Linked DNA regions of Homo sapiens. The protein of the gene in region 3 purifies or fractionates together with the protein of the main gene of each other region. This does not show direct contact. Each region holds a gene or a part of one and is shown on either strand. Other genes may lie near its edges. The genes, in order: SLC2A8, MMP2 and BCAT2.

Evidence for each region.
Region 1: the proteins of BCAT2 (region 3) and SLC2A8 fractionate together in Homo sapiens (co-fractionation; one large-scale study listed by BioGRID). This does not show direct contact.
Region 2: the proteins of BCAT2 (region 3) and MMP2 fractionate together in Homo sapiens (co-fractionation; one large-scale study listed by BioGRID). This does not show direct contact.

What each region holds. Positions count from the first base shown.
Region 1 is NC_000009.12:127,403,669-127,407,168, forward strand, and holds part of SLC2A8 (solute carrier family 2, facilitated glucose transporter member 8), read left to right. Parts: coding exon 1-135; intron 136-290; coding exon 291-399; intron 400-1,149; coding exon 1,150-1,323; intron 1,324-1,751; coding exon 1,752-1,897; intron 1,898-3,443; coding exon 3,444-3,500.
Region 2 is NC_000016.10:55,499,698-55,503,197, forward strand, and holds part of MMP2 (72 kDa type IV collagenase isoform 1 preproprotein), read left to right. Parts: intron 1-3,081; coding exon 3,082-3,191; intron 3,192-3,500.
Region 3 is NC_000019.10:48,800,856-48,804,699, reverse strand, and holds part of BCAT2 (branched-chain-amino-acid aminotransferase, mitochondrial isoform a precursor), read left to right. Parts: intron 1-3,844. UniProt on the Homo sapiens protein: Catalyzes the first reaction in the catabolism of the essential branched chain amino acids leucine, isoleucine, and valine. May also function as a transporter of branched chain alpha-keto acids.

The DNA.
Region 1 (3,500 bases), on a different chromosome or scaffold from region 3:
CTGGCCCTGCTGCGGCAGCCCGGCATCTACAAGCCCTTCATCATCGGCGTCTCCCTGATGGCCTTCCAGCAGCTGTCGGGGGTCAACGCCGTCATGTTCTATGCAGAGACCATCTTTGAAGAGGCCAAGTTCAAGGTAAAAGGGCCCTGCCTGGCCTGCCTCGTCCAGCCCCCACATAGATGGAGCTTCCTCCCCAAGCCCAGGGCCCAGCCATCCAGCACAGGCCTGGAGAGGGAGGGACCCAGCTCTCAGCTGGCCCACCTGACCTGCCTGGGCTCTGTCTCCCCCAGGACAGCAGCCTGGCCTCGGTCGTCGTGGGTGTCATCCAGGTGCTGTTCACAGCTGTGGCGGCTCTCATCATGGACAGAGCAGGGCGGAGGCTGCTCCTGGTCTTGTCAGGTGAGGGTTCACCCCTGTGCAGCCTCCCCGCCATGCGGGGGAGGGCCTTCGCCAAGGCCACCACACTGCAGGAGGAGGACAGGGAGCATTTGTGATGACAAACATCATGGACTAATGCGGCCATGATTTGACAGCAGCTTGTCACCAAGCACTCACTGCAGGCCTGTCCATGCCAGTGGCACTCCCACACCACGCCTTTAACCTCTGTGGTGAACCCACCAGAAGGCACTCTCACAGCCCCAGCTTATGACGGGAAAACTGAGGGCCAGGAAGGTGAAGTGACTCAAGAGTTTGTGGGTCCTTTTGGACAAGTGACTTTACCTCTCTGAGCCTCAGTCTCCCCCTCTGGGAAGTGGGGGTAATGGCAGTGCCTCCCTCAGCACCATTTTGAGGAGTGGGAGGTGATCCACGTGAGGCCTTCAGCAAGAGCTGCGGCCCACGGACATTTGGTACCCAGCAGCTGCTGCGAAGACGACCGTCGGGGCTGAGGGTTACTCGCTGCTGCTTCTGTGCCGGTACCTCCCATTTCCTCGGCCCAGAGGGTCTGCTCCGGGAACTTTTTGCAGTTCGCTGAGGTCCAAGGCGGGGTGGCTGCCACCCAGTCAGGGCTTCTGCGGCCAAGGTGCCAGAACACCAAGCTGGCCGTTCTCTGGGAGCCGGGCCTGCCCCTCTCAGAGGCATCCAGGCCATGCTGCTGCGCCCTGGGCCGTTCCCCGGGTGCCCCGCCCACTGCCGCCCTCCCGCCTGCAGGTGTGGTCATGGTGTTCAGCACGAGTGCCTTCGGCGCCTACTTCAAGCTGACCCAGGGTGGCCCTGGCAACTCCTCGCACGTGGCCATCTCGGCGCCTGTCTCTGCACAGCCTGTTGATGCCAGCGTGGGGCTGGCCTGGCTGGCCGTGGGCAGCATGTGCCTCTTCATCGCCGGTAAGGGGGCCTGTGGGAGGCTGGGCGAGGAGTGGGAGGTGATCCCCCCGGCCCTGCTGTGGCGGCTCCCGGCAGGTGGGGTCTTCCCCAGCCTCACCTCTCCTCTCGTAAGTTCCAAGCTCTGCATTTCTAGCTCTGACCACATGCAGCTGTGGAACTAGGCCCCTCTGCGTTCCTTTCACTTAATCCCCTGAGCAGCCCTCGAGCAGGCCCCGTTGTGACCCCATCTCAGAGACAGAGCCTGTGCCTGAGGAGGGAAGAGGCTGGCCGAGGCCTTGGCAGGAAAGCATGGAGCTGGTGGGACCACACTGGGATCCGGGACCCCACAGCCCCACAGGCTGGGAAGCTGGGTCTCTTGGCTCTGCAGCAAGCTGAGGAGCCCAGCCCTGCGGACCCTGATGCCTGTCTTGCCTGTCTCGCTCCCACAGGCTTTGCGGTGGGCTGGGGGCCCATCCCCTGGCTCCTCATGTCAGAGATCTTCCCTCTGCATGTCAAGGGCGTGGCGACAGGCATCTGCGTCCTCACCAACTGGCTCATGGCCTTTCTCGTGACCAAGGAGTTCAGCAGCCTCATGGTGAGGGCAGGCTCCACCAGCACCGCGTTCGTGCAGTCAGCCGAGAAGCACTTTCTAAAACCACTTGTATTGCAGAAGACCCAGGGTCGTGGCCTTACATGCAGCCTGAGCCCCACCATGCCTGGGCCACTGGCCATCTTGGGCAAGGCGACGTGGAGGCAGATGGGCTAGGCCAGATGGGGAACCCAGGCTGTGACCCCTTGGGAGTCCTCTGCCTGTCTTGGCAGTCAGACAGCACAGCTGGCCTCTCCCCTTAGTGAACGTCAGGAAAGCGGGCCTTGAGCCTAAGGTCTTACATGGGAAGAGTTGACAGGGCTGGGCTGCAGCCCCACCCTGGCTACTTCCTTGCTGTGTGACCTTGGGTATGATGCTTACCTTCTCTGAGCCCGCTTCTTTGGCTGAAACTGGAGGAGAGTAACAGCAGCTTGCTCTTAAGACGGATGGGAGCATTAATTCAGTTCATCCTGTTGCTGCCTTCTCACGGATGGACTGGCACAGGTGTGGCCCCTGTCCCGGGGCTTCCCAGCCAACAGAGAGACAGTTCTGGGGTAGATGATCTGGTTGTTTGTTCAGTCATTTGTGCCCTCCAGGTCTCCTGGCATGTGCCATGTCCAGGCCCATTCAAGGCGCCAGGGAGAGCAATGAACAAGATGGACAGGGTCCCCTTTATGACAAGGACGGGAAAGGCCATGGCAGTGGTGGGAGAATGAACCCCAGTGGGGCTGGGTTAGGATGTGGTGGGGCGGGTCATGAGGGGCCAGCCTGGAGTCTGTGCAGAGCTTGGGACCCGCTTAGGCAGGACTGCCCGGGGAGCACATCGAGGGGGCCAGGCCGATGCCTGGGGGTGGAGATTACTTGCTGCAGCTGGGAGGGGATGCGCAGCAAAGGAAGGAGGAAAAGAAGCCAAGAAGGAGGTGACAAAGGACCTAACAGTCCTTTTTTAGGAGAGAAAATGTCCAAGAGGCCAAGAGAAGGCCTTCGAGGAGGGAGAGATCGCCAGGTCCCAGAGGACCAGGAGCTGAGAAGCACCTTTTTAGTTCTGGCACGTGGGAGGTCACAGTGGTGGTGGATGGCAGGGACAGGTTCTGACTGAAGGCCCCATGTGCTCCTGGGGCCATGCTCGCTTTGCCCTGTCTCACCCATTTCCACCACACTATGAAAGAACCCACCGGGGGCCTCAGGGTGGGGCCAAAGCTGAGGGTGGAGGGTTGGTCTGTGGGCCCTGGAGTCAGACCTGGAACAGGAGCCCAGCTGTCACTGGATAGCGGGTCTCTGGCCTTGAGGCAGTCACTTCATTGCTGTGAGCCTCAGTTTCCCCAGCCATACGACCTCGGTATCTTGGACAGTGCTCGGCCCAAGCCACCAGACTGGATGCCAGACTATCCTCCATGTCCCAGAGCTGGGTGGAGATAAAATGGGTGTGGCCTTGGGCAGGGCAGGCTGGGGTCAGGGGACTGGACCCCCTGGTGGCAGAGCTGTCTCAGTGATCGCGTGGGGCTTCCTGATCTCTCCCCGCGTCCACCCATGGCCTTTCCTCTCTCTGCAGGAGGTCCTCAGGCCCTATGGAGCCTTCTGGCTTGCCTCCGCTTTCTGCATCTTCAGT
Region 2 (3,500 bases), on a different chromosome or scaffold from region 3:
TTGTTCAAGCTATAGAGATATGTGTATTTGCACAAAGCCAGGATTATAGCTACTTCTCTTGTATTCTAACTGAGTACCCCCTCCACTATACCTGCCAGTCCATTTGATTAGTGAGGAAAGAGTGGTCGGGGCACAAAGACTTGTGGTGTGTCTTTCCATCCCCTCCCTCCTGGTATCCCCACATTCCTTCCATGGCTGCCACTGCATCTGGGCCCTACCCAAGAATTTTAGAGGGCACTTCCTGAGGCCTTTGTCTGCCATCCCCAAAACAATCCCGCTTACTTCCTAAGGCCTCTGTCTTCTCCCCCTTCCCTCCTCCCCACTACTCTGCCCCCCAGCTGCCCTGCATTCAGAAACTCTTTATATCCCAGGCCTGCCCATGTCAGGGTGGAATTCCAGACATATTGCTAAGACACTTAGCAACCTAAGCTGATTGATATCTCAAGCCTCAAGAAAGAAAACAGTCAGGCAGGAAACCACAGAGCAGGCTTTCCACCCACCAGCTCCAGACACTAGCCCCAGACAGTGTGCACGCACACGCACACACACACACGCGTACTGCGAATGGCATCTCAGCATTGTAGGAGCCCTGAATCTCCAAGTCTTAGAATTGTGGCTGGTGAGCCGCACAGACTCACAGAAACGTGAATCTTAGAATCCTAAAGCCCTGAAGTTTTCAAATTATGGTGTTGGAAGAACTTTTTAAATCACTTTTCCATGCACTGTATCTATGTAAACATGCAAAAACAGACCTGTTCCTAGCATATAGGAACATGATTGTGTGCGCATGTGCGCATACACACACACACACACACACACACACACACACACACACACACACAGGCATGGAGGTTGTGGCAGTGCCTTGCTGGATTTCCAGGCAGAGTTATTTGCCTCCCAGTCCTTTTCCACACAAGCCCACCTCCCAAAGCCAGAGCCAGGACAGACAGCGTGCTCTACAGAGGAACCACCCTGAGACTTCCTGAAAAGGGACAGAGCTGAAGGGCCTATCAGAAGCTCTGGGCTGGCTTCCAAAGGAGACAGATCTCTATTCCAAGAGAAGTGGTGAATGAGCTTGTGACACTGGCCCTGCCGTGGAGTCTGCAGAGGCCCCAGAGGCATCTTTGCTGGAGAAGGAGAGAGAGCCCCAGAGTGACAGAGGCTGAGCAGCTGTCTTCAGCATGCCAAGAAGAGCTCAGGCCCTGCTTGTAGAAGCTTTCACTAAGCCACAAATATATGTTCCACATCTGCTGTGTGCCAGGCACTTAGCTAGCTGCTGGAGAGACGGGGGTCAAAAAATCATCACACCCTGCCCTCATGTAGTTTATAGTAGAATGAGGGAAAATTATGTAAACACATTTGAATCAGATAATGATGGCTCTCAGTATGGGGCCTCTACCATAGCCCAGCCTGAGGCTATGCAGGTCACCTATATTTCTCAGTTGAGGTAGATACTGTTAGCTCCTTTTCCCAAGTGTGGAAACTGAGGCTAAAGTGGCTCAAGGAAAAGCTGGGACACAAATATCTGTGTTCTTAACACCTGCTATACATGGCAACTTCTACAGCTGCAGAGAAGTACCACATCTTCTGACACCACAGTGCTTGTATTCTTTCTGGATGAAAAGAACTTGGAAGCAAACTAATTCTCTTATCTGAGACTCAGTTTCCTCATCTGTAAAATGGGCTTGACTTCTGCCATCCCCACCTTCTGTGGGTAGAATGAGAAAGAAATGAGGGCCAGTTCAAGTGTGGGACACACATCTCCAAACTATCCTAACGCTAGGGAATGTAGTTTGAGGGCTCAGTGGAGGTGCCTTGGATGGGAGTGTTGGGATTTTGAGCTAGGGAACTTGGTTTTGGTGACCCAGGGCATGAGGAAGCATGCCAGGTTTTGTAAGAATGAGTTTTATGCTGCACCTGGGATTAAGGAAGGCGTTAGTTCTTCGGGGTGATGGCTGAGGGAGAAGTCCCTTTGAGGGAGAAGTCTCCTCTAGAAGGGAGCATATAGGGAAAGCTGCTGTTGGGGTCCAGGGTGGAGGTGGTCAAGGCTGGCTGCAGAAAGGAAGGGAGCCCCCTAGGAGGCACTGTGGAGCAAAAGGTGGCTGCTACCAGGATGGGATGCGAACACAGATTCATCTAGAAACAGCTCCACTTGGGCAAGACTTGTTTACTAGGATATCCATAGCTCCCATAGTGGGAGCTCAGTAAATATTTATGGAATAATGAAGTGGAGAGGCAAAGGAATCAACATGACAGCAGCATTTAAAAAGTTCTCCAAAAATCTTAAAAGACAGAAGGATTGCTAGCCAGGGAGAAGAACATACTAACCGATGCCCAAAGTATTTACCTGAATTAAAGGCGGGGCCCAGGATTGCTGCCGCCGGAACTGAGGTGGCATGTGGCCCACCCTGTGACTAACAGGCCTTGGACTTACACGTACCTTCCACCTTGCATTGTAACCTCACTGCCCCAGCCATGGTCATCTCCCAGGGCAGGGACTGTCATCTCCCTGTGGCAGATGAAGAAGCAGCAATTTTTCCAAGCCATGAAGTGAAAGAATGATGGGGCAGATTCCCATCCCTGGGCTTCTAGTTTAGCACTCCTCGGATTACAGCAGGGATTTGTTTGTAAGGGAGCTAACATTTCTTAAGTACCTACTAAATATTTATGAGACATGGGGATAGAGGCTCTGCATGTGCTGTTTTATTTAATGCATGCATTAAATTAAATACACTAAATTAGACACAACCCCATTTTACAGCTGGTAAAACTGTAGCTGTATGGAAAGTGGTTAACACACTGTTTGGCATGTAGTAAGTGCTTTATAAATGTTAGCAGTAATCATGAGATTGTTTTTATGGGGTCATCCAAAGTCATATAATTAAAAGTGGTAGATCTGAGGCTCAGACTCAGGTCTGATTCCATGCCCTTCCTTCCACTGCAGCTGGCTGCTTCCCTGAAGGGCTAGGTCCAGTTTCCGAGGCCTATCCAGGAGCCATCAGCTGGGTGCTCCCATCCAGGCCAGGGGGGAAGTGTCCTTTAGAGAGGCCCTGCTGGTTCACTGTGTCTGTTTCTTTACAGATACAATGAGGTGAAGAAGAAAATGGATCCTGGCTTCCCCAAGCTCATCGCAGATGCCTGGAATGCCATCCCCGATAACCTGGATGCCGTCGTGGACCTGCAGGGCGGCGGTGAGCCACCCAGGACTGTCTCCGCTTTCTAGGACTCCCCGCCCCTAGCCAGGGCCCAGCTCCTTGCAAATACACACTTCTTTATTGTGCAGGGCAGGCAGGCAGGCGGCGCCCAGGAAAACAAATCAACTCCTTCATCCTAGTGCTGGGAAGGTTTCCAGATCCCTGACCTCTGCTCCTTGGCCTGGCTCCAGGCAGTAAGACCCAGAAAGACTTCTCACAGCTGCAGGGCCTGGAGCCAGGGCAGGGGAGGGCGGAAGGCCTGGGCCAGGGGAGAAGGAACATGGGCTCTGTGCCGTGGATTCATTC
Region 3 (3,844 bases):
GCACTGCTGTGATCCCGCGGGTCCAGGGGGCGGAAGGGGGAGGATGAGGGAGTAGGACAATGCTGTCCCTATGTCACCCACACTCCAGGGCATGTGTGGATTGCAGGCCGACCACGTGTATTATTTTTTATTTTATTTTTTCTTATTTATTTATTTAGAGACAGAGTCTCACTCTGTCCCCCAGGTTGGAGTGCAATGATACAATCTCGCTCACTGCAACCTCCGCCTCCCGGGTTCAAGTGATTCTCCTGCCTCAGCCTCCCCAGTAGCTGGGATTACAGGCGCCCGCCACCACACCCGGCTAATTTTTGTATTTTTAGTAAAGCCAGGGTTTCACCATGTTGGCCAGGCTGTTTTCGAACTCCTGGCCTCAAGTGATCTGCCCACCTCAGCCTCCCAAAGTGCTGGGATTGCAGGCGTGAGCCACCATGCCTGGCCTTATTTTTTATTATTGTGGTACTAATACGCATACATAATAACACACAGCATCAAATGTGGGATTCCAACCATTTTATTTGTTTGTTTGTTTGTTTATTTATTTATGAGATAGAGTTTCACTCTTGTTGCCCAGGCTGGAGTGCAGTGGCACAATCTTGGCTCACTGCAACCTCTGCCTCCCAGGTTCAAGTGATTCTCCTGCCTCAGCCTCCTGAGTAGCTGGGATTATAGACATGCACCACTATTGGCTAATTTTTGTATATTTAGTAGAGACACGGTTTCACCACGTTGGCCAGGCTGGTCTCAAACTCCCGACCTCAGATGATCCACCGCCTCATCCTCCCAAAGGGCTGGGATTACTGGCGTGAGCCACGGCGCCCAGCCTCCAACCATTTTAAAGCCCATAATTCAGTGGCAGGCAATGTTATGCAACCATCAGCACCATCAAGGTTCAGAACTGTTTAATCCCCCATACCTATTAATCAGTACCCATTGTCCCTCACCCCAGCCCATGACAACCATTAGTCTGCTTTCTGTCTTTGTCTACCTGTATTTGTTTATTTATTATCTTTAAATAATAGGGATGGGGTTTCACCATGTTACCCAGGCTGGTTTTGAACTCCTGAGCTCAAGTGATCCACCTGCTTCGGCCTCCCAAAGTGCTGGGATTACAGGCGTGAGTCACCAAGCCTGGCCACCTGCATTTTTGTTGTTGTTGTTATGACTCTTTTTTTGAGAAAGGGTCTTGCTCTGTAGCCCAGGCTGGAGTGCAGTGGCACGATCTTGGCTCACTGCAGCCTTGACCTCCCAGGCTCCAGCGATCCACCTGCGTCAGCCTTCCAAGTAGCTGGGACTGCAGGTGTGCACCACCATGCCCAGCTAATTTTTATTTTATTTTATTTTTTTTTAGGGATGGGGTCTTGTTATGTTGCCCAGGGTGATCTCAGATTTCTAAGCTCAAGTGATCCTCCTGCCTCAGCCTCCCAAAGTCCTGGGATTGCAGGCATGAGCCACTATATCCGGTGTATCCGGGCTCTTTTACCTGGGTTTTGTTTTGTTTTGTTTTTGAGACGGTGTCTTGCTCTGTTTCCCAGGCTGGAGTGCAGTGGCATGGTCTCAGCTCACTGCAACCTCCGCCTCCTAGGCTCAAGTGATCCTCCTGCCTCTGCCTCCCGAGTGGCTAGGACTACAGGCACACACCACCTTGCCCAGTTAATTTTTAAATCTTGTGCAAAGACAGGATCTCACTTTGTTGCCCAGGCTGGTCTCGAACTCCTGGCTTCAAGCAATTCTCCCACCTTAGCCTCCCAGTTCTGGGGTTACAGGTATGAGCCATCATACTGGGCCTGGAAATTCTTCTCTATACCTTAAAGCTTAAAGAGCTTTTTCCATCTTTCTTGCAGCCTCATGCTGTATCATCCTAACAATGCACCTCCTTAGGCAATCCCCTACTGTTGGACACTTAGGTTGTTTCCAGTCTATTATAAACAATTTTGCAATAAAGAATCTAGTACAGGGCCGGCTGTGATGGCTCACCTGCAATCCCAGCACTTTGGGAGGCTGAGGCAGGTGGGTCACCTGAGGTCAGGAGTTCAAGACCAGCTTTGCCAACATGGTGAAACCCCATCTCTACTAAATATACAAAAATTAGCTGGGTGTGGTGGCGGGTGCCTGTAATCCCAGGTACTCGGGAGGCTGAGGCAGGAGAATTGCTTGAACCCGGGAGGCGGAGGTTGCAGTGAGCCGAGATTGCGCCACTGCACTCCAGCCTGGGTGGCAGAGTGAGACTCCATCTCAAAAAAAAAAAAAAAAAAAAAAAAGGAATCCAGTACACACGTCCCTTCTTTAGTCACTTGTTTAAGTGCAAATGTATCTAGAGGCTCAATTTCGGGAACTGTAGGTCAAAGGATATGTATGCTTGTAATCTTGATACGTATCGCCACATCTACATCTACAGGGTGTGTCAGTTTCCACACCCACCAGCAGAGCCTGTTTCCATACCTTGGACAACCCTTGTCCAAGTTTTAGATCTTTTCCAATCTCCCATGTGGTTTTAAAGGTATCTCAAACTAATTTTAATTTGCATTTTTCTCCCTAGTGATTAATGAAATTGACTATCTTCTCACGAGCTTAAGGGCCACCTGTATTTCCTTTTGTGTGAACTGTCCATTTGCTAGGCTGATTTTTCTATCAGGTTAGGTTTTAAAAAATTCATCTGGGGCTGGGAAGAAGAGGCAGGGGGATTGCTTGAGCTCAGGAGTTCAAGACCAGCCTGGGCAACATAGTAAGACCCTATCTGTACAAGAAATTGGAAAAAAAAAAAAAGTCCAGTCGTGGTGGCTCACGCCTGTAATCCCAGCACTTTGGGAGGCCGAGGTGGGCGCATCACCTGAGGTCAGGAGTTCAAGACCAGCCTGGCCAACGTGGTGAAACCCCGTCTCTACCAAAAACACAAAAATTAGCCGGGCGTGGTTGTAGGCACCTGTAATCCCAGCTACTTGGGAGGTTGAGGCAAAAGAATTGCTTGAACCTGGGAGGTAGAGGTTGCAGTGAGCCAAGATAGAGCACTTCAGCCTGGGCAACAGAGTGAGACTCCATCTCAAATAAAATAAAAAATAAAATTCCCAATCCAAGATATAAAACAGTTATTTTTGTTTCCTTCTATAGCTTTTATGGTGTAATATATATATATATATTTTGTTTAGACTTTTAATGCACCTGGAATTTTTTCTGGTGTGAGGTGTGAAATAGAGATTCAACGTAGTTTTTCTCTAGATGGATATTTGGTTATCTATTCCATTATTCAGTCTGTCCACTCATATAGCAGTGTCACTCTGTTTTAAGTATTGTAGATTTATAATGTTTTACTACCTGATATGGCTACTCCCTGCCCCTGCCCCATCTTGCCCCTCATTTTTGTGGTGGTGGTTTTTATCCCCCCAAAATATTGTAGCTAGTTTTGCTTGTCTTCCATTCATTTATCTATTCATTCATCAAAAACCCACTATGGGAAAAAAAAAAAAAGTCTGGCTGGGTGCAGTGGCTCACCCCTGTAATCCTAGCACTTTGGGAGGCTGAGGCGGGTGGATCAACTAAAAATACAAAAATTAGCTGGGCGTGGTGGTGGGCGCCTGTAATCCCAGCTACCCAGGAGGCCGAGGCACAAGAATCACTTGGACCTGGGAGGCGGAGGTTGCAATCAGCAGAGATCACGCCACTGCACTCCAGCCTGGGTGACAGAGTGAGACCCTGTCTCAAAACAAAACAAAACAAAACAAAACAAAAAAACACTCTGTGCCAAGCGCTGCCTACCCTGGTGCATGGGACTGCAGGAGAGGCTGTCTGGTAAACGTGTCAAGGGTAATCCCTGCCTTCCAGGCTCTTCCACTCTGCAGTGGAGCAGATG